Linked DNA regions of Homo sapiens: region 2 is linked to region 1. The links come from fine-mapping of genetic effects on gene expression. A gene starts in region 1. The other region holds a variant in brackets. All regions are shown on one strand. Distances are from middle to middle.

The links. PIP is the estimated chance that this variant, and not a neighbour inherited with it, causes the effect.
Region 2: its variant is fine-mapped to the expression of WHRN in fibroblasts (GTEx, PIP above 0.99).

What each region holds. Positions count from the first base shown.
Region 1 is chr9:114,503,920-114,506,821 of GRCh38, forward strand. WHRN (whirlin) reads right to left here and starts at 1,554. Exons shown (of 12, transcript NM_015404.4): 1 at 265-1,554. The coding sequence starts at 882. RefSeq lists enhancers at 43-933, 934-1,824 and a silencer at 1,349-1,648.
Region 2 is chr9:114,550,556-114,553,460 of GRCh38, forward strand. No RefSeq gene overlaps it. Among named protein-coding and RNA genes, the nearest start is that of ATP6V1G1, 36 kb to the right of the region's middle. The variant G/A (reference allele first, on the strand shown) is at 1,544.

The DNA.
Region 1 (2,902 bases):
TTGCTCAAGTATTTGTTACTATCACCTGCACTAGCTTTTAAGCCTCACAAAGGCAAGGGCCATGTCTGTGCAGAACTACGTTCCCAGTGCCTGAGAGCTATTTGCTCTGTAAGCTATACATTCCTGTTTTAAAGTATTAAAAAAAAAAAAAAAGCCCAGAAAGGCCAAGTGATTCATCTAAGGACACACAGCATGGAGTTACTGAAAAAGCTGTGCCACTCTGTCCATACTCTGCCCCAGACTCTCTCCAAACCACAGCCTTACCTTGACGGCCTCCGCGTGGGTCACCCGGGCCAGGGATTTGTCGTTGACGCGCAGAATCTGGTCCCCGACCCGCAGTCCTTCCTTCTCAGCTAGAGAGCCTGGTTCCACCAGAGACACGTAGATGCCCACGCCGTGCTCCGAGCCCCCACGGATGCTGAAGCCCAAGCCCTCGTGGGCCTTGGCACGCCGCAAACTCACCAGGCGCACCTCCCCTGGCCCCGCGCTGTCGGGGCCGCCCCAGGCGGGCTGCCTGTAGGGGGTGGTGGCGGGCAGGTAGAGGCCCTCGGCCGTGTATTGGTCGAAGAGCAGCTGGTCGGAGCGCGGGATGACCAGACGAAGCATGGGCAGCAGGCGCCGCTTGACCGGACTGTCCAGCAGCACGCGCAGGGTGCGCACCAGGTCGAAGACGTTGCGGCGCGCGTGGTAAGCGTTCAGGCAGTGGGTGAACTGCTCCCGCTCCGCCTCGCTCAGCAGCGCGGTCAGCGCTTGGTGCAGCTGGCGCACGTTGGCAGACAGTAACCGCAGCCCCGCGCCCCCGCCGCCGCCCGCCCCGGCCGCCGAGCCCAGCGAGCCGGTGGAGGACGAGCTCACCGACAGGCCGTCCAGCGGCGCGTTCATCTCCACGCCGAGGCCCGGCCGGGCTCTGAGCGCGCGGGGTGTGGGCGGTGCCGCTGTCCTCGCGGGTACTGGCGCGACAGCTGGATCCCCGGGAGCGCGGAGACGACGGCTGGAGCCTGGGTTTGGGGAGCACGGGTACAGTGGCTGGATCCTAGGGGGTCGCGGAGACCGCTGCTAGAGTCCCGGAGGCGCGAAGACGGCGGGGGTCGCGAACCTGGAATCCGGGGGACGCGGAGACGTCGGCGGGTTCCTGAGAGACACAAGAGTTGGCTGCTGGAGCCCGGAGGTGGCGGAGACTGCTGCTGGAGTCCGGGGGGCGCGGGGTCAGCAGCTACATTCTGGAGGGCACGGAGACGACGGGTGGCTGGAGTTTGGGGGCGCCGCAAAGCTGACCTGACTGCCCCGTCACACCATGCCCGGGGCTCCCCCAGCCGGGCGCCCGTTCCTCTAGGGCTGGGGGACCCCAAAGTCAGAAGTTGGGGCGGAGGGCGCTCTAGTCCCAGAGCACTCCGGGGAGTGGCAGCCGGTGAAGCGGCGCGGGCGTCCGACAAGGGGTGCGGGGCATGTCCGGGGCAGCCCCGGGATGCAGCCGCCCGGGGAGCCTCCGCGCCTCTGCGCCGCCCGGCCGCAAGCCCGGACTTTGCGAACTGTTGAGCCACCCGGGCCGAGTCTTCCAGCGAGTTCCGACGCCGTCTCGTTGCCAGCCCGGCCCGGGCCCCGCCCCCTCGTCCCTCCTCCTGCCCGCCCCCTCCCCACGGGCTCCTCAGGAAATGACGTCCCGCCCGGTGCGCCTGGCCGTTGCCTGGAGACGGGGTGAAACAGTCCAGCCCCAGGGAAGAAAGGGGTGAACGCGGCGGTAGGGGTGGGAGGAGCCCCCGCGTCCCCTACCCCGCCGGCAGAGCCGGGAGCGGGGCTCAGAAACAGCGCTCTTCGGCGGTCGCAGCGAGTGCCGACACCAGGATCGCTTTGGAGTAATTAGCCGGCTAGCTAATTCACAATTCGGGGGGAAATCGTCAAGTTTTTTGTTTGTTTGATTTTTGCTTCCAAAATACTGGGCACTTCAGTCTCGGTTTTCTTCCTTACAATGTGGCGCTCCCCTCCTGCACGCGCCCTGACATGACAAATTCCAGGGTTTATGTGGACGGTCGTTGGCCACCTACTGTGTGCGAGAGACGAATACAAGCATAGACTGCTGTCTGCCGGAGTCAACTCCGTGGCAGGGATGGATCAGGCTGGACCCCTTCCCAGTCTCCATTGCAAGGGAAAAGCCACTTTCAGAAATATTATATAAAGTGTACACCCCACGCTCGCGCACACACGTACAAATGAGCGCATATAAAACTGGTGAAATCTGAGTAAGGTGGGTGGATTTTATCAATGTCAATGTCCTGGTTGCCATCGTGTCAACATCGGGGGAAACTGGGTGAAGGGTACATGGCATGTCTATGTATTATTTCTTAGAACTGCATTTGGATCTACAATCTCAAAATAGAAATTAAAAATATACATATTTGAAGTGGCTTGGAGAAAAATCTCTTCTATGCTCTCCCATCCCTAGGCAAAATGGGAAGATACACCCAGGTGTGCCCTGGAGTCGGTCGTCACCCACCCAATCCCCCAAATAAGATTTAAGTAAAATCCTGTGCTTTTATTCTAATGGGGAGCTTCATAGTGCTACACACACACACACACACATACACACACACACCCTACCTCACACACATCCCTTCCAACCTGAGCTGCCTCTCCTAAGCTACTCTTCTATGTATTTTTCGTAAAAGTCTTCCAGAATTTCCATTGCAGAGCCAGCTGACATCTATCCAGGGTAGGGCAAGATGGAGGATTACCTGGAGGATTTGGTTTGTGGTGGACCCAGAAGGATAGATCATTCATTTATTTATTTATTTATTTATTTATTTATTTATTTATTTATTTGGTCGCTTTTCATTCAACGTTTTTGAAGCATCTGCTCTGTGCTGGGTCATGTGCTGGGTGCTGGAGACCCAGGGGAGAAAGATCA
Region 2 (2,905 bases), 47 kb after region 1:
TGGTCAGCAGCACCTTGACCTTGAGTGGGCCCAGATCTTAGATCTCCAGCCCCTGCTACTTTATTTCTCCTTCTCCCTCTTCTACAGAGATGGGGTCTCACTATGTTGTCCAGGCTAGAGTGCAGTGGCTATTCACAGGCACAATCTCTGCTGCTTTAGAATGTCCTGGAGAGCTTTCTGAAAGTCCAAGTTCCAGTCTCTATCCCTGCAAGACTCTGAATCAGTAGGTCTGGGGAAAGCAATTCTGATTTTACAAAGCTCCACATTTCTTTTTAAAAAAATATCGATGGGGTCTCACTATGTTGCCCAGGCTGGTCTCAAACTCCTAGGCTCAAGCAATCCTCCTGCCTCAGCCTCCCAAAGTGCTGGGACTACAGGTGTGAGCCTGGCCAAAGCTCTTCACTTCTAAAGGGCAGCCATGCTGCAGAATCCCATCAGCATGAAATGTCCAGAGGCCAGTGTCCTTCCTTTTCCAAGGGGCCCTCTCGTTTGTCCCCCAAGGCACCTCTCCTCCTAGTCTCTAAGGCCCCTCACTGGGACCCTTCCCCTCCATGGCTTGCCTAGGGTTACCTTTGTGGAGTCAGAGGTTGTTAGGGAGGAATATGTAGAACCACTGACCTAGTGCAACCCCTTAACTTTCTATTAAGGAAACCAACGGAGGACCAGGGAGGCCAAATGAGTTTCCCAAGATCACATAACAAATCCAGGGCTTACCGACCAGGGTGCACACCTTGGGAGCTGGAAAACTGTCCCGGGCCTGCTCTCACACAACAATGTGTGGGTTGTTTTTTGTTTGTTTGTTTGTTTTTGTATTTTTTAAATTTCATTAATTATTATTATTATTTTTTTTTTTTGAGACAGGGTCTTGCTTTGTTGCCTGGGCTAGAGTGCAGTGGTCCAACCACACAGCTCACAGCAGCCTCAGCCTTCCAGGCTCAAGCAATCCCTCCCCCTTCAGCCTCCCAAGTAGCTGGGATAATGGGCACAGGCCACCAAGTCCGGCTAATTAAAAAAAAAAAATTTTTTTTTGTAGAGATGGGGCAGAGGAGGGGGTCTCCCTGTGTTTCCCAGGCTGGTCTCAAACTCCTGGCCTCAAGCGATCCTCCCACCTTGGCCTCCCAAAGTACTGGGATTACAGGCGTAAGCCACTGCACCCAGCCTCACACACTCTGAATTATGTGGGGTGGGGTCCTAACTAACTCACTGAGCCTCCCAAGCCAAACTCAACCGCAGCTATTCTCCATCCCAAAAGTGGGAAGGAGCTGCCTATTGAGGGAGAGGTGGGCCTTCTTCCCATTCTCCATCTTCACCTACAAGCTATCCACTATGCAGGGGCTGCTTGGAGTTTTAACACTGATCCAGTAGCTCACCTGGCTCTTGCCTAAGTAAATTACCTTTCTCCCTTGGGGTTGGGGAGGTGTGGGTCTGGGTGGTGGGCACTGGCTTTACCTCCAGCTCAGCTCCTTCTCTTTGGTCCCGCCTCCCAGGGTTTTATGTGTCCATATAACCACTGACTCAGGGTCAGCTTTTTCCAGTCTAGTGC[G/A]TCAGCACAAGTGAGTGATAGAGCCTGAAGGCCATTACTCAGGGGAGGATGGTGGTGAGTCATCACGAGAGACTCCTTCCCTAGTCTGGCCACTCTGCTCCAAGCTGTGCTGGGAGACAGAGAATAATAACACCTTTTGGACTGGCCTTTTAAAAATAGAAACAATGGAGTCTGTGGCTTTAGGAGGAGAGGTCCTGGGAGTCAGAAGCTCAGTCCTGCTAGCTTGTCATTCCTTGGAGGATGCTGGCTACTACTTTGCCCACCGGTAATTGAGGGTGTTGCCCTTGGCCATTTGGGGTGGGCTTTCTGAGTCTTTTAGAGGTTGCAGAATCTTACATGTGCTATAAACCAAGGACACACCCTACCCAAAATTTATATACACATTCATGCAAAATGTGTCATGCAATCTCAGGGTTTCATGGAACCCGCTGACACCCAGTCATGGGCTCCTGGCAATGAATTCCTGATCTCTGGGCTCTATTTGTCTAATAATTCTATGAAATATGTTTCTTCCAAATTCTATACTCCCCACACCCTCCATAAAATCATTTTTTAAAACATTTTTTTGTCTTCATTTATTTAAGAAACATTTATTGAGTGCTACCCACTCCTGTGGAAAAGTCCAGTATTGCTGGGAGAGAGAAAAGAGGAAAGGCCTCCACCTGGGGTGTCTGCAAGAAGGGCACGGACATTGGAGGTGCAGATGCACTGAAGAACTGATGGGCAAGCAAGATAGATGGTCAAGGTTGGCACTCAGAGGGGTGACCGTTACCCGCCCCTCCACCCCTTTCCCCGGCTTGTTGTAAGGGCAAGATCCTTCCCTCAACTCCAGAAATGAGTCATCATGTGTCTATGCCAGCCCTGGCAATCCCATTCCCCTTTTTGAGTGTTTCCAACCCCAGTTTTGGACAAAGAGACCTAAGGGAAGTCAGTGTGCGACCCTCAATTCCTAGAAAAAAGACAGAGCCTCAGAAAGAAAAGGCTTTTGGGCTGGATTACAGGTGGCTCACACCTTTAATCCCAGCACTTTGGGAGGCCAAGGCAGGTGGATCACTTGAAGTCAGGAGTTCGAGGCTAGCCTGGCCAATGTGGTGAAACCCCATCTCTATTAAAAAAAAAAAAAAAAAAGAAAGAAGAAAAAGAAGAAAGAAAAGACTTTTGGACCATGCCTGTTCTTTCTGCTTTGGAAGGTTGGTAGCAGAGTTTATGCCTAATTGCTATCTTGTGACTTTGAGATGACAAGTGTGAACATGAAAAACTAACAGCTTAGGCGGAGCCAAAAGATAGGAAGAAACTGGGCTGTTGATCCCAGTGCTCATCACCTCTGAGCGGCCCTGCATCCTCTGGCTCCTAGTCTTCTAG